Regions from separate parts of the Homo sapiens genome. Here region 1 is linked to region 2. The links come from fine-mapping of genetic effects on gene expression. A gene starts in region 2. The other region holds a variant in brackets. All regions are shown on one strand. Distances are between the middles of the regions.

Region 1 (8,326 bases), 200 kb before region 2:
GAGGCAGCAGCTCTCCCTGTGCTGGGCACATGCCCAAGGCTGGCTTTGGGGACAAAGAATAATCAAAGATGACACTTTGGGGCTGCCCTCTCCCCAGCCCTCCTGGGCAAAGTCGGTGCGTCCCAGGAGTCAGCCTGGACTTGAACCTCTGACACCCGATTGCTGCTGGCCTGGTGCAGGGACCCGAGGGGCCCGAGGACACAGGAAAGGGCCTGGAGGGAGAGAGCAGCCGGACTCCGCCCAAGCAATTTAGGCGCCTGCCTCATCTGTGGTCCCCCACACCCCCAGCTCACCAAGCAGCAGGACAACCCCTGGAAATCCCCCAGGGAGGCGGGGCGCAGGGATTGCAGTGAGGCCCTGTGCCCAGGCTGGCTGTGCCCTACCTGCGGGAAGAGTCACTCCAGTCCCTCTGGGCTGGTCCAGGTGCAACCACAGTAGGACACAGGTCAACTCCAGTGAAATGTGGAGGGAGGAAGGGTGTGCCTGCCTGCTCCTTCCCCTCCCTTGCAGGGAGGGGCGGTTGCCCTCAGCAACAGAATGCCCACGTGGGATACTGGAAGCTTCAGCTTACCCCACCCCACCCCTCCAGGCCCGGTTTGTCCTGGGCGCAAGGGGCTACTTCAGAGCTGCCAGGCCTCCACAGCAACACATTAAATGTTCTGGAAACTAGGAGATGTGGCACTGCTGTACAACGGTCAGGAATAGCCATCCTGTCCTCCTGACCCGGTGAAAACCAGCTTCTGCTGGGAAGGAGCATGGGGTGGCGCCTGGCTTTTGGAGTCAGGAAGAACCAGGCTTAAGTAATAGAACTGCCTGACCTCCAGCTTGTCTCTTCAGCTCCCAGGTCTGTGCTCGATTTGGGATTATTGGGTGGGGCACATAAGAAGCTGCGTTCTGTGCTCTCAGGGTGCTGGACGCTGTTTCAGGTACCAGTACACACCAGAGGGAAGAGAGTGCCTGATGGCATGGTGATTGATTTTAGTGGAGACAGCTAGACACTAAACCAGGAGTTCTGTCATGCCAGTTGGTGATAAATTGATTTCTTGAAGATTTTTCCACTTCCAAGCAAGGTAGAATAGATGCACCTGTCCCCACGCCCTACACTAAGGACAGTTAAAATCTCTGTATATTTCCCTGGGTATTACACATACATATATAACTACATACATAAACGTATGTATATCAAACACTAAAAGGTGGAGAGAAGAAGGCAGACCATGTAGGGACCTTGGGACCTGAGGAATGACATGACAGGAGTTCCCTGGGTTTTCTTTCTGCCTCATATATCTGTGACTGTGTGCTGGAAAAGCCAGCAACACGAAACACCAAAAGACACAGACAAAAACCAACAACAACAAACCCAACAAGTTGGCCCTCAGCCAAAATAATTAGGCAAGAGGAAGAAATAAAAGGTATCCAAATTGGAAAGGAAGAACTTAAATTGTCCCTGTTTACAGATGACATGATCTTATAGAAAACCCTAAAGATTCCACCAATAAGATGTTAGAATAAATGAAATCAGTAAAGTTGCAGGATATAAAATTAACATACAACAATCTGTAGCATTTCTATACCCTAACAAAGAAATCAAGAAAACAATGTCATTTACAATAGCTACAAAAAATACTTGCAAATAAATCCAACCAAGGAAGTGAAAGATCTGTATGCTGAAAACTATAAAACATTTGTGAAAGAAATTGAAGATACAAATAATTAGAAAGCTGTCCCATATCTGAGATCAGGTGCCAAAAAAAAGACATCCCATGTTCATGAATTGGAAGAATTAATATTGTTAAAATGTCCATACAACCCCAAACAATCTACAGATTCAATGCAATCCCTATCAAAATTTCATTGACATTTTTCACTGAAATAAATAAAATAATCCTAAAATTCGTATGAGGGAGTAACACCTGCTCCACAGTGGCACAAAGCACTGTCAGGTGCCACACACAGCCTGTTGGGACATGTGGGCCACAGTACTTCCCCACCTAAAGTACTGTAGAGGCCCAGGAGACATGAGCCAGGGCCATTTTAACTGTCAGTAATGGCCACAAAGACCCCTAAATAGCCAAAGCAATCTTAAGCAAAAAGAACAAAGCTGGAGACAATACACTACCTAACTTCAAGATATACTATAAAGCTATAATAATCAAAACATCATGGTATTGGCATAAAAACAAACAGACCAATGAAACAGAATAGAGAGCCCGGAAGTGAATCCATGCATTTACGGTCAACTGATTTTTGACAGAAATGCCAAGAAACACAATGTGGAAACGACAGTCTGTTCAATAAATGATGTTGGGGCCAGGTGCAGTGGCTCATGCTTATAATCCTAGCACTTTGGGATGCCGAGGTGGAAGGACCACTTGAGGCCTCCCTCCAGGCTCCGGAAGAGACCTCCTCCATGATCCCTTGTCTAAGGGGAAGGTTCCTCAGGACCTTACCGTGGGGGCTGAAGGTGGCCACCCCTCCAGGAACTTATGCCCCAGGCGCTGAATTTGGGCTGCCTAAGTCTGTGTGCGTGAGTCTGTGTTTGTGTGCATGTCTGCATGTCTGTGTGTTTGCATGCATGTCTGTGTGTCTGTGTGGTCTATGTGTCTGTGTGTACACTTCTGTATGTCTTTCTCTGTGCATTTTTGCATGTGTCTCCATGTGTCTCTGTGCATGTCTGTGTGTCTATATGTCTGTGTCTTTGTATCTGTGTATCTGTGTCTGTGTGTCTTTGCGTGTCTGGTGTATGTCTGTGTGTGTGTGTATGTCTGTGTATGTAACGGTGTGTCTCTGTGGCGGGGGGTGTGTGTGTGATTGTGTGTGTGTGTGTGTCTGTGTATGTAATGGTGTGTCTCTGTGGCGGGGAGGGGCTGTGTGTGTCTTTCTGTGTATGTGTGTGTAACGGTGTGTCTCTATGGCCGGGAGGGGGTATCTGTGATTGTGTGTCTGTGTGTGTCTGTGTATGTAATGGTGTGTCTCTGTGGCGGGGAGGGGCTGTGTGTGATTGTGTGTCTGTGTGTGTCTGTGTATGTAATGGTGTGTCTCTGTGGCGGGGAGGGTGTGTGTGTGATTTTGTGTCTGTGTGTGTCTTTCTGTGTGTGTCTGTGTATGTAATGGTGTGTCTCTGTGGCGGGGAGGGGCTGCGTGTGATTGTGTGTCTGTGTGTGTCTTTCTGTGTATGTGTGTGTAATGGTGTGTTTCTGTGGCCGGAAGGGCGTATCTGCGATTGCGTGTCTGTGTATGTAATGGTGTGTCTCTGTGGCGGGGAGGGTGTGTGTGTGATTTTGTGTCTGTGTCTTTCTGTGTGTGTCTGTGTATGTAATGGTGTCTCTGTGGCGGGGAGGGTGTGTGTGTGATTTTGTGTCTGTGTGTGTCTTTCTGTGTGTGTCTGTGTATGTAATGGTGTCTCTGTGGTGGGGAGGGGGTGTGTGTGATTTGAGGTGGGGACGGGGCCTAGGCTTCAGTTACTCACAACAGGACGGACAAAGGAAACAGAGTTTACCCGTTCTGCTAAAACCAAGGGCGGGAGGGGGACGGGGCTGCCGGCAGCCCTCCCAGAGCCCCTGGCAGCCGCTCACGGGTTCCGGACCGCCTGGTGGTTCTTGGGCACCGCAGTGAACCTCAGCTTCCTCAGGACGGCGGGCCAGCCCAGCAGCTGCTGGTCCCACAAGTACTCGGGGGAGAGCACCTTGGTGGGTTTGTGGCGCAGCAGGTACTTGTTCAGGTGGCTCTCGTCGTGCCACACGGCCTCGATGCCGTTGGCCTGGTCGACCATCATGGCCTGGTGGCAGGCCCTGGTGAGCCGCTGCACCTCTTGCACCGACCCCCCGAAGAACCCCCCCAGGTAGTAGAAATCGCCCTCGTCCTTGGG[G/T]ATGTAGGCCTGGGACTGGGGCCGGCGCTCGTAGGTGAAGGCCTCCCGGCTGCTTCCGTAGAAGCCGGGGTGCAGGGTGCCGAACAGCGGAGTCAGGATCTCCACGCCCACGTGGTCGCGGAACTCCATGTCCACGTCCACGCACACCAGGTAATCCACCTCGCTGAGGAAGCGCCGCTCGCAGAAGTCACTGATCATCTCCATGCGGCGCATGGACACGTCCTGCCAGCGCTTGTAGGCGCGCACCTCCAGCACTGACAGCTGCCGACCGGTCCCCAGCGTCACGCGGGGCACCGCGGCCGGCTGGTCGGTGAAGACATAGTAGTGGACACGGTGGCCCACCATGAAGTGCTTCTCCGCCGTCTCCAGGAACAGCTTCAGGAAAGCCACGTATCTGCAAGGCAGGCGGACGGGGGCTGGGGGAGCCGCCGGCCGTGCACCCCTGGGCTGCAGGAGGCCCGTCCTGCACCCGCCCGCCAGCGGCCATTGGAAGGCTTAGAGCAGCAGATGCACCACGTTCTCCTGCCCTGTCCTGAGCGAGTCCTCGGGCTGCGATTCACTTCATCCTCTTCCCAGCGATGGGGGACCACCAGCACCCCCTCTTACTAAGGAGGGCTGAGGGCAGGTGGCTGGAGGCTGGTAGCAGGCCGCAGGCTGGCGTCTGCTCACTCCCCCTCAGCCTGGCCTGAGCCACGCCTCCCCACGCAGCTGCCCCTCTTATGGCCAGGCCGGCCACGTGCTCCCTCATTATAAGCTGCACGCGAGGCCTCCACACACCCGCCTCTGCACCCTAGAGCTTCCTCCCTCCAGGCTTGAACTGCACCTATTCCTAAGAGTAAGTCATTCCTGGCCTCCGCCACTGTCGCTGGCCCAGCTGCCCACAGCTGCCGAGAAGTCAAGTATGTGTCTGCGGTTGCCTGGCTAGCTCCCTCTCTGGCCTGGCCCAGAGTCCCAGGGCCTTGTGGGTCAGCCACTTCCTTTGGTGTCTGGGGCCAACTGCTTTGCCTGCCCCACCTACATCTGACAGAGAAGTGACCACGGCTCTGCCAGCATCCTCTTTCTAGGGTCCAAGGACAGCAAACAGGTGTCCCCCTCCTGCTATCTCTGGTCAGTGAGCAGGAAACATCTGGAGCCTTGTATTGAGGGGGTGGCTCAGCATGACGGCCGGCCACAGTTACAGAGAGGAGGGGGCAGCAGAAGCCACCATCCCTGGGTGAGACGCAGCCTCTGGAGAAGGAGCTGGGTTTTACCGACCTGGCGAGCCCACGAGCCCACGAGCCCACATGAGCTCAGTAAGATGCTGCATGAATGACCTTTCCCATCTACCCTCTGGGAGGACAAGGCTGGCCGCCACCCCACTCTGTCTTGAACACAAGGAGAGACCTCAATGTCCACAGTCACTCGCCACTGCCTGGGTCTCTACCCTCGGCCACCTCACTGACTTACTTCTTGATGGCAAACACAGTTAACCCAATGGTGGTGTTCTGGAGCCTGAACTGCTCGTTGAGGATGTCGATGTTGAATGTGCCCTCCCAGACAATGGGAGCCAGCCAAGGGGTACCACGAGGACATCCTTCCTACTGCACATGGAGAGAGGCGTGCGGTCACATGGAGCTGGCAGGGTGCCACCCACATGCGCCTCTGGCACACGGCCGCCCCCACCTGGAAACTCCACTCAGCTTCTGCCTCCTCTGACCACCCTTCCAGAGGCAGCCGCCCTTCCCCGGGAAACCAACCAGAGGCAAATGCGACTCCAACCGGGCAAATCATTCCCAGCCCTCCCTCAACATTGGACCTGTGGGAACACACAGCAAGCTGAGCTTTGCTGGCAAAGAGATAGGAACAAACCCTCCCCAGCACCCAACCCCCGCTGCCCCTCCCCAGGTAGGAGGTACCTATCAGGCCTTTGCAGGGGCTTTGGAGAACAAAGGGACAGGAAACAAGAGACGCAAGTCAGAGAAAGCAAAGGGAAAGAGGACAGCCATGTGGGCCTCTGAATTCAGATGTCAGGAGAATCTGAGAGGAGAGAACGAAGCAGCCCCAACTGAGATTTACATCAAGGAAACCGCCCTCTAATACCTTCAGAACAGCCCCTTGAGCTGCGTTCAGTTTCAGTGTCAGTAACTTTACTCACCACGGTGTCAGCACCTTTGGCTGGGGGTAGACCATCCTGCAAGCGCAAAGCGCCGCCACGTGAGTTTGCATGGAAAGCGTGGGATGCAGGTAAGCAGGGGTGTGCACAGCCGCTGAACCATGACTGGGCATTGACCCTCCCGCCAAGGCCACACTCCCAGGCTGGAATCACTGTGGTTGCTTGGGGGCTGTGTCAGCTCATAATCCCGGGAACTCGGGAAAGGGCCAAAGCTCAGAGTCTCTGATTCAGCACTTACAAACTGGCAAGAGGGACTAAGTGACCTCAGGGGCCATTGCTTTCCACTTGACTTAAGGCTGGGAGGGACGTAAGGGGTTGTGTCTCAATTCACTGTGGGCAGAGAGGAGGCTGGGTGTGTGGCCTCTGTCCCTGGTTGTTCCCAGGGAAAGGCCCTGAGATGTGCAGACCTCCCCACCTGGGCCCGAAGCCTGCTGGGCCTCCTTGTGGGCTGCTGGCTTCCAGAGCCCGGCTTCCTCTCTGAGAAGTGGGAGAGTGACACCTGCTCCACAGTGGCACAAAGCACTGTCAGGTGTCACACGCAGCCTGTGGGGACGTGTGGGCCGCAGTACTGTCCCCACCTAAAGGATTGTAGAGGCTCAGGAGACATGAGCCGGGGCCATTTTAACTGTCAGTAATGGCCACAATTTGAATGTCCAAGATGGCCTTTAAAAGCAGGGAGTCAGCAGAAAACAGGAAGGAAATTCTGACACTTGGTACAACCTGGATGGACCGTGAGGACATCACGCTCAGTGATTTGAGCCCGACATAAAAACACAGGTACCATTGACTCCACTTATAAAAGGTAGTTGGAGTAGCAGACTCATAACAACAGACCATGGAATGGTGAGCTGGGGGAGGGAAAATGGAGTTGCTATTTTATGGGGACAGAGCTTCAGGTTGGCAAGATGAAAAGAGTTCTGGAGATGGATGGTGGTGATGGCTGCACAGCAATGTGAATGGACTTAAAGCTACTGAACACTCCAAAATGACTAAGATGGCAAATTTTATGTTAAGCGTATTTCATCACAATTTAAAAAAAATCAAAAGCAGTGTGGCCAGCTTGGCCTTGATTGCCTAGGTCAGCACTGATAAAGGCCCACATCCTGGGAAACAGCCCTCCAAGGCCCCAGACAGAACAGACCAGCTGGTCATCTTCTTTAAAAGCCAATTTGAAGGCCAGGTGCCGGGGCTCATGCCTGTAATCCCAGCACTTTGGGAGGCTGAGGCGGGCGGATCATTTGAAGTCAGGAGTTCAAGACTAGCCTGGCCAACATGGTGAAACGCTGTCTCTGCTAAAAATACAAAAATTAGCCAGGTGTGGTGGTGGGCGCCTGTAATCCCAGCTACTCAGGAGGCTGAGGCAGGAGAATCACTTGAGCCCAGGAGGCAGAGGTTGCAGTGGGCAGAGATGGTGCCAATGCACTCCAGCCTGGGCGACAGAGCGAGACTCCATCACACACACACACACACAAAAGCCGGCGACACGCATTTGGTCAAAACTGAAGCTCCAGCTCCATCGTGCTCTCTGAGTGGCTGCAGGACGAGGGCCAAGTCAGGGTAGAGACTGGGGAAGGAGCGGCCCCCTCCCTCGGAGCCACAGGAGGAAAGAGGACCTGCCCCAGCTCCCACATGGCACACATGTGCCAGGGCTGCAGGACAATTCTGTGACATGGGAGCCACTGAAGGGAGGCACTGACATTATACCTTGGCAACGAGACGCGCTGCAGATGGTCAGGTTCCCTAACAGCCATGCTGCAGAATGAGAACACAGGAGATGAAGTTTAGTCTAGGAGCAGGATTTAGGGCACAAGTGCATGGAAGCCACCCGAGGGTCCCAGTGGAAGGGGCACAGCGTCAGCCTGGAGTGTGGAGCAGAGGCCACCAGAAACAGTCACAGAACAACCATCACTGTGGCGATGGGCCTGACGTGGGCCCGTGTGCCAGACCCTGTAACGGCCAGCGTTGCAGTCTGAGGTCTACGTTCGGGGAGCCTCACAGCCCACACATTCACCAGACACGTCGAAGCCAAGGCCGGGCAGAGTGGAGTTTCAGAACATGTCTACAAACCATGAGGCCCCCTCCCATCAAGAGATGGGGTCTGATATTCTGTGTTTCTAAGAAATAAATGCAGCAGAAGTGATGCTGGGTGACTTCTGAAGCCAGGCCCAAAAAGGTGATCTGGCTTCTGTCTCATCTTTCTTGGGATGTTGGTCTTGGAGCCTCCCAACCAAGCTAAGCAGGAGCCCAGGCCCCAGGGAGAGGCCCTGGGTAGGTGTCTCAGATGACAGCCAGCATCAACTGCCAGA
Region 2 (8,297 bases):
CCTCTGGGAAGGACTGGCACAAGCACTTGGTCCCTGGGTTGTGTGCCTGGGAGGCCGGGATCAGGGCTGGCCCTCTTTCTCCCTGGCAAAGCAAAACCTCCCTTTTACTACTATCAAGGGGAAGTAACTTGAAGGTAGGAACCCAGCTTGTGAGCCCCCTAGCCTCTGGGCTGCTCTGCATGTGCCCCCTCTTGCTGGATCATCTGGTAGCAGCCCTGTGCCCTGAGGGTGATGCTCTGACCTATGCAGCCCCCCTCCCTGTCCTGAGAAGGCTTCCAGCTGGGCCTTGGAGGACAGGGTCCACCCCTACCTCCTGGTCTCCTTCCTCAGCTTGGAAGCCCCGGAGCCTGCCCTGCTGGGAATCGGGGAAGCACTGCTTACCTGTCTCCTGCTCCCTTTTCAGGTGCCTGTGGCAGGCAGCACCTTGAGCCAACAGGAACCATTGACATGCGAGGCCCAGGGCAGGCAGACTGTGCAGTGGCCATTGGGCGGCCCCTCGGGGAGGTGGTGACCCTCCGCGTCCTTGAGAGTTCTCTCAACTGCAGTGCGGGTATGTCTAGGGCCATGCAAGCGATGCTGCCAGTTATGGGCCCTGCCAGGAGCCAGCACGACGCTGCATGCCCCATTCCTGGCAGGAGCCCATGTGCATTCCCACCTGTAGTTTGCATCCCATCTCATGACTGGGGAGTGATGATCTGCATTTTACAGATGAGGAAACTGAGGCTAGGAGAGATTAAGTGATGTGCCCAGTTACTTAGAGTCACATAGCCAGCAGTGGGAGAGGTGGGACTTGAACTCGGCTCAGTCTACCCTGGAGCCACTCCTCTGCTGACCAGGCGTGGGAGTGCTGGACCCTCACTGCCCTGCCGCTTCCTAGGGGACATGTTGCTGCTTTGGGGCCGGCTCACCTGGAGGAAGATGTGCAGGAAGCTGTTGGACATGACTTTCAGCTCCAAGACCAACACGCTGGTGGTGAGGCAGCGCTGCGGGCGGCCAGGAGGTGGGGTGCTGCTGCGGTATGGGAGCCAGCTTGCTCCTGAAACCTTCTACAGAGGTATGGCCAGGCCTTCTCCACCTCCCTTGGGTGCTCCAGTCCTGGCAGGGAGGCTGGGTGGGTGCTGCTGGGGATGGGGCCAGTCCCAGTGGGGCAGTGGGAAGATACGGAGGGAACTGACTGAGATGGAAGGAACTGGGGTTGGCCAGTGTCAGTCTGCACGTGCCAGGGAGGGGTCACAGGATGAATGCTATATCCCTCCTTTTTGGGACCGTGCAGCAAGATGGACGGATGTGGGACATGGTCCACATCCTCAGTCAGTCCCTCAGGCCTCTGCCCCACACCCACCTGCCCCGCCCCCACCCCTCCAGCCTTTCAAGGGCTTTTAGGGTTTTGTGGAAGCCACTGTCCCTCAGCCCTGTTTCAGTGCACTGGTGTAAGCAGACATGCTTGTACATGCATGTGCACCCACAAGCACACCTCAGGCAGAGGATGCCACCTCAGGGACTCCAGCCTTGCCCGTGGCCCCCTCGATATCCTCTGATAGCCCTCTCGGTTGTCCTGGGGGGCTTGCCCTCTCCCAACAGCCCGAGCTGGCCGAAGTTGGCTTCCCTAGCTGGTTCCAGAGGTTCCTCGGCTCCCCCAGGTGTCTGGGGCTTAGTGGCAACAGGGGCTTAGCCTCTGCAGAGACCTAGTGCGCCGCCTCCTTGCCCCAGACCTGCCCGGGCAGAGAGCCGTGTATGTGTCCCAGTGCACAGGCGCTGCTGGGCCCTGCCAAAAGGCCACAAGCCCACTGTCACCGTTCACATTGCTTCTCGCTTCCCGGCCCAGCCCCGCCCACACAGGCATCTGCCTTGAAAGAGGTGCAGGAGGTACAGGCAGGTGGGGGCTCCAGTGAGCTCTGAGGAACAGCAGTGGCCGCCATGGGTGGAGCCTATCTTTGTTGCCAGTTTCAGTGTTAAACACTCTTGCACGTGTGACATCATTGAGTCCTAAAGACCACTCTGCTCAGTGCATGCCATTGTTTCCTTCAGTTACAGAGGAGGGAACCAGAGCCCAGAACATTTAGCCTTTGCCTAAAGTCACTGGGCCAGGAAGTGGTAGAGGTGGGGTTCAGCAGGATTTGCCTGGGAACCCCAATATTGACCACAGTGCCATGCTGCCCTGCACGGCTCCCTGGCTGTGAGTTGTCCTGGCCTCTGGCACCACCGGTCTGTCTGGGTTCCTATGTCCCTATGTCCCACCTGCAGAATGTGACATGCAGCTCTTTGGGCCCTGGGGTGAAATCGTGAGCCCCTCGCTGAGTCCAGCCACGAGTAATGCAGGGGGCTGCCGGCTCTTCATTAATGTGGCTCCGCACGCACGGATTGCCATCCATGCCCTGGCCACCAACATGGGCGCTGGGACCGAGGGAGCCAATGCCAGCTACATCTTGGTGAGGCCCAGCATGGGGACTTGTGCTGTGATTCTGGACAGCTTTCCCTAGGGCGTGCAGGGCTAGGGGACCCCCTTCAGTTTATTTCAGACTAAAACCCTCAAAATCATTAGTGAAAGAATGGGAGAAGATAGCTTCCTCCACATATTCACCAAGAAATGTTTTTTGAGCTACCTACAAGAGTGAAATAGTGGCTCACAACTGTAATCCCAGCACTTTGGGAGGCCCAGGAGGGCAGATCACTCAAGGTCAGGAGTTCGAGACCAGCCTGGCCAACATGATGAAACCTTGTCTCTACTAAAAATAGAAAAAGTAGCCAGGCATGGTGGCGTGTGCCTGTAATCCCAGCTACTTGGGAGGCTGAGGCACAAGAATCACTTGAACCCGGGAGGTGGAGGTTGCACTAAGCCCAGATCGCACCACTGCACTCCAGCCTGGGCAACAGAGTGAGACTCTGTCTCAAAAAAAAAAAAAAAAAAAAAGCGAAATGGTAAAGAATGGTAAAGACCTTTCTGATGTAGACTGACAGCTAACCCAAGACTGAAGCATAATTTTACAGTCTGATATAACTTGGACAGAATAGCACCCTGCACCCTCCCCGAGGTTTCAAGTGTCCTGGGAGAACTGTGTTCTGCAGGGTATCAGCTTCCCCAGAGGAGGCAGCCTGGCCCCGCTCTGGCACCCTGACTGTGTGTCCTTGGGGAAGTGATGTAACGTCCCTGGACCTCGGTTTTCTGGGTAGAGTAATGGCGTATTCCTAGTAGGGCTTTGTAAGCATTAAATGTGATCCGGAATCTGTGAGCCCTTGCACACGAAGGCTTCCGTGAGTGCTAATTATTACTTGTGGCCGGTCCTTCTGGGCTGCCCCTTTTCTCTCAGATCCGGGACACCCACAGCTTGAGGACCACAGCGTTCCATGGGCAGCAGGTGCTCTACTGGGAGTCAGAGAGCAGCCAGGCTGAGATGGAGTTCAGCGAGGGCTTCCTGAAGGCTCAGGCCAGCCTGCGGGGCCAGTACTGGACCCTCCAATCATGGGTACCGGAGATGCAGGACCCTCAGTCCTGGAAGGGAAAGGAAGGAACCTGAGGGTCATTGAACATTTGTTCCGTGTCTGGCCAGCCCTGGAGGGTTGACCCCTGGTCTCAGTGCTTTCCAATTCGAACTTTTTCCAATCTTAGGTATCTACTTTAGAGTCTTCTCCAATGTCCAAAAGGCTAGGGGGTTGGAGGTGGGGACTCTGGAAAAGCAGCCCCCATTTCCTCGGGTACCAATAAATAAAACATGCAGGCTGACCGGCGTTTTTTTCTTATAAGCTGTCCAGACCTGGCTTGAAAACCCATCCCATGGCAAGGCAGGGATTCGCTGGCCGCGGTTGGCTCTATCTTGATCTGAGCAAGCCGCTGGACGTCCCTAGTTATCTTCTTCCTATCCAGGAAGAAAATCCAATCAGGATTCCACTCCGAGGATGGCGCATTAGCCAGCTCCCTGCGAAGCCCCACCCGTGTGTCCTGGTGTGAGGCTCTGACCGCTAAGGTGTCTGCGCGCCTCCAGGCCCCGCCCCCTATGCTAATAAGCGCCCGCCTCCTTTGGGAGCAAGTCGCCGCAAACTGCGAGCCCCCGCCCCCTACGCTAATGACGCCCGCCCCCCTCGGGCACACCTCTCCGATGCCTGCGAGCCCCGCCCCGTATGCTAACGAGCTCCCCACCCCCAGCTCCTCGCCGCAGCCTGCGGGTCCCGCCCCCTACAATAATGAGCACCTACCTCCCCTCAAACGCCCCTAGTCGCGGCATGAGGGTCCCGCTCACTATGTTAATGAGCACCCGCCTCCCTTCGGGCGCGCCTCGCCGCAGCCTGAAAGCCCCGCCCCCTATGCTAATATGCTCCCTCTCCCACAAGGCAGCGCGCCGGCTCGGACGCGGCCGGCTACCGAGCCCTTTGTGAGGGCTGTGAGCTGCGCCTGACGGTGGCACCATGAGCAGCTCAGGTGGGGCGCCCGGGGCGTCCGCCAGCTCTGCGCCGCCCGCGCAGGAAGAGGGCATGACGTGGTGGTACCGCTGGCTGTGTCGCCTGTCTGGGGTGCTGGGGGCAGTCTGTGAGTATCCAGTCGGGGAGAGGGGCCGGCCCCGCCGCGCATGCGCTCCTCGCCCTGCCCTGCCCCGCCCCGCCCCGGCGGCCCCAGGGGAAAGGACCCGCTGGGGGTCGGGGGTCTGCCGGGCGCCTCCCGGGGCGGAGGAATGGCGGGGCCGCCGGGAGCCGGCGTCCTGGGGTTGCCATGGTTACCCGCTCGGGCCTGGGCGCCTTGGTACCCCGGGCTGGGCTGGGCTGGCGCTTCTGGGAACATTCCCGGAGGGACCAGAAACCCCAGGGCGGGGGGGCGGCGGGGGCGGGGGTGGGGCACCGGCCTGGGGCACGTGACTGAGCCCTCCCCCCGCTCCCCAGGGGCTTTTGTGAGACTTTCTCGGTGATGCTCACGGGGCGCATGCCCACCTGGCCCGTACTAAAGCGTCAACTGTTGACTTGGGCGTAGGTGACGGCAGCCACATTGCTAACCTTTGGGCAAGGATTGTTTGTAAGGGAGGCGGGTGCACGGCTGGCTAGATTTCTGGCAGGAAGCCACTGGGCGGAAGTTTGCTGAGGGTCAGGTGGTGTCAGGGCACAGGTGGCCCCTGGGGCCGCGGGGCAGTGAGCTGAGGGCCCGGCCTCTCCCTGGGTCCTCTGTCCGCTCTCATATCTCCCCCGTTGCTGCTGCCTTAGCCGCCTGTCACCGGCCTTCCTCCCCTTCTCCGCACGCATCCCAGTCACAGACCCTGACCTTAGGCTGCCAGGGAAGCTAGGCTCTTAAGCACAGCCAGAAAAGGACAAAGAGGGAGGCAGGTCAGCTCCAGGAGTGAATGGAAGCCGTACAGCTGGCCTTCCAGGGAAAGACAAGTCTGTCTGAGTGATACCCTTTCCTTTCCTGTCTGCCCTCAATCTTGTGGATTACTGGAGTGGGCAAGGTCTTAGAGAATGTCTGTCGAGGATGTCTGCAGGTTTTAAACAGTGCCTGCCTGGCAGAGAGGGCTAGCTCTGGGCCTGGGCAGGGCAGGCCCCATCAGCAATCCTGCCAGAAGGACCACCTTTTCAGGGTCACCTTGGGTTCCACAGCCTTTCCAGGTGGGTAGAGGGTGGAGGGAGGTTGAGGCAGGAGGGTGCTGGGCTAGGAGTGTGCTGCCCTCGCTAGGCATGCCCTTATCCAGAGGCAACGGATACGGTAGGGCAGGCCCTACCCCCAAATCACAAAAAGGCCCCGAGTTTGTGTCACTGCTCTTCAGGGCAAGTACGCTTTTGACTTTGTAGGAGAGACTGGTGGGTTTGAAGTTAGGCATTGGATCCAGTCCTGTCATGTCTGGTTAGCTGTTTTCCCTGCAGATTAGGGTGGGCAGTGCAGTGGGGTGACATGGTCAGTGGTGAGAAAGGAAAGGTCCTGACTATGGCCTGTAGGCCACACCTCCTTCCTTCTTGGTCAGTGGCCCTGCCGACTCCCAGATTTGCTGTGGAGTCTTACTCAGTTCTGTGCCTCTCAAAGTGAGGTACCTCTGCCTTTCCTGGGAGTTCCTGGGGCTCTGTTGGGTCTACAGATGAAGCTTCAGGAGAAACTTGTGGCATTGCCCTGAGTTGTCAGTTGCATCTGCAGATTTTTGGGGGCATGGTTATGTGAACATCAAAATGCTGTATTACAGGGTAGAATGCAAAAATGCAGGGTGTTTTAGAGATGCGGCAGGAGTTCAGACAAGGGTTGTGTGCCGGGCTGGTCCTTGGGTAAGGTTTTCCTCCTCCAGGGTGAGGGGATCAGAGAGAGTACCTGGAGAGGGTCTACCCTGGGTCCTAAGAGCATCTGGAGGTGATACCTTGGGAGGGGACAGGATTGCATGGTGACAGCCCCCTCACGTGGAAGATATCAGCATTGAGGCCCCCAAGTGGACATCCTCCAGCCCTTTATTGCTAAAGGATTCCTGGCTGGAGCCTGCTGGTCTGGCTTGACACCTGGTCCTCCCCCAAGGCTGGCTGTGGGTTGGACAGCTGGGGTAGGGTTGGAGCTGGAGGCCAAATGCTGACTGCAGCAGGAAGCACAGCCGAGCTGTCAGGTGAGGCCAGGCACAGCAGAGAGGCAGGGAGCCGTGTCACCCTTTGGGCACTCTGCTAGGACAGGCAGGCCCCTGTGTACCTGTGGTTCTGGAACACCTTGCTGTCTGAAGGCAGATGTCTAAGGCTGTGCTGAGGAGCAGTGCAACGCTTGAGTCCTTTGTTTTAGAAGGAGACCCTGGGGGCCCATGAAGCAGTCCCATTGCAGTTCGGCTCACTTTATCTGGCTTCTTTGCCTGCTGTCTGCATAAGGTTACCTGGGAAAATGGAAAACAGCAGAATTCCAGACCCAGGTGGAGGGATCAGGTGCAGAGGAGCTGCTGCAAGTTTAATGAGCTGGGTGCTAATTGCTGCCTCCAAGGCCCCCCTCAGTGATGGCCTGGGCTTGCTCCCTGCCCAGCAGCCACCTCCTTGGACCTGCCTTGAAGGCTCCTGGAGTTCCTGGTGAAGCCAGGCTGCAGGCTGTGGGTGGAGGAGGGAGTTGGGTGCAAGAGACCCTGCTGGTGAGGTGCAGCTGGGAGGCGGGGCGTCAAGGCTGCACATCTGAGCATCAGAGAAGCCACGTTCTGGGGTGGAAAACGATGCCCCCTCCCCTTCCTGGCCTTATGGCATTTCAGCGGTGGGTGGCTGGGCTGTGGGACTTGCTCATGTGCAAGAGGAGAAACGGGTCTAGGAAGATGAAGATAGCGTGCCAGTGGCACAGGGCTGGTGAGGAAGTTAGAGCTGGAACTGCTGCTCAGTCTTACCTGGTTCCCATCTCTGTTCTGAGAGAGGCACCCCTTGTCCCAACCAAAATCCAAGCCACATTTTCTGAGTCAGAGGACTTCTTGTGTGGCCGGCCCTGTGAATGGTGGCAAGTGACCCTTACCGAAGGCTGAGTCTTGGGGGAGCACTGGCCTGAATCCTTGAGGGACATTCACTCTTTAATCCTTCTTTAATCCTAACCTCCCTTTGAGGTGGATATTGATGTAGCTGGGGTCAGAGGGCCAGCTCCTCTGAGCCCTGAAACGGGGAGAGGATGCTGTGAGATCCACCTGCCACCTTGCTGCCACCTTGCTGTGGGGCCTGGGGCAAGCAAGGCACTGCACCTCTCTGCGTCTCCTCACCTGTCTCAGACGATAGAGGGCAGGCTTCTGGGTGCTGTGAGAACTGTGTGCTGAGCATCCGCAGAGACTCTCGTCCTTTCCAGTCATCTCCCAAGGCCGCCTTCCCAGCGGGCTCCGCCTGCCTCCCTGCTGACTCCTGCCCGTGTCTCTTGTTTCAAGCTTGCGCGATCTCTGGCCTCTTCAACTGCATCACCATCCACCCTCTGAACATTGCGGCCGGCGTGTGGATGATGTGAGTAATGCATGGCCGTCCCACCCCGGGGGTCTTGCTGGTCGGGAATCTGCTGGGCACCTCCCGGGACAGAGGAGTGGCAGGGGCCGTGGGAGTGGGCATCCTTGTGGTTGCCATGGCTACTGGCTCCAGCCTGGGTGCCTCGGGCATGTGAGTTTCTGGCCACAGCATGCGGCTTCTTCCCCTTCATACCCCCACCATGTTTAGTTTCCTAATGAGAGGTCAAGGCCCAGGGAATGCCCACCCCGGCCTTCATCCGGTGCAGGGGCAAGGCCATCAGTGCTCCAGACATTTCTGGAGCATCCACTGAGACTGCAGATGCCAAGTCCACTATACTGGGGCCCTCGCCCTCTGGGAGCTCCCAGGACTGGGGTGGGGAAGGCTGTTCATTGGGGCTGGCTGAGGAC

Alleles and levels. Alleles are on the strand shown, and positions count from the first base shown. SD is a standard deviation of normalised expression in the study named.
For the expression in subcutaneous fat of the gene that starts at base 4,313 in region 2, G is the low allele of the variant in region 1 and T is the other (large effect, 1.2 SD a copy in TwinsUK).

The links. PIP is the estimated chance that this variant, and not a neighbour inherited with it, causes the effect.
Region 1: its variant is the best candidate, but not a certain one, in a credible set for the expression of CACFD1 in subcutaneous fat (TwinsUK, PIP 0.60).

Annotation. Positions count from the first base shown.
Region 1 is chr9:133,252,095-133,260,420 of GRCh38, forward strand. It overlaps the pseudogene ABO. Among named protein-coding and RNA genes, the nearest start is that of OBP2B, 47 kb to the left of the region's middle. RefSeq lists enhancers at 1-1,320, 345-563, 3,323-3,855, 6,000-6,984, a cis regulatory region at 462-507 and a silencer at 1,640-2,427. The variant G/T (reference allele first, on the strand shown) is at 3,869.
Region 2 is chr9:133,455,666-133,463,962 of GRCh38, forward strand. CACFD1 (calcium channel flower domain containing 1) reads left to right here and starts at 4,313. Exons shown (of 5, transcript NM_017586.5): 1 at 4,313-4,522; 2 at 7,818-7,890. The coding sequence starts at 4,402. It overlaps ADAMTS13 (ADAM metallopeptidase with thrombospondin type 1 motif 13), which reads left to right. Exons shown (of 29, transcript NM_139027.6): 26 at 404-550; 27 at 878-1,054; 28 at 2,245-2,429; 29 at 3,309-3,721. The coding sequence ends at 3,515. RefSeq lists silencers at 788-940, 3,909-4,128, 4,139-4,238, 4,529-4,828 and enhancers at 1,391-2,258, 1,782-2,076, 6,771-7,327, 7,505-7,564.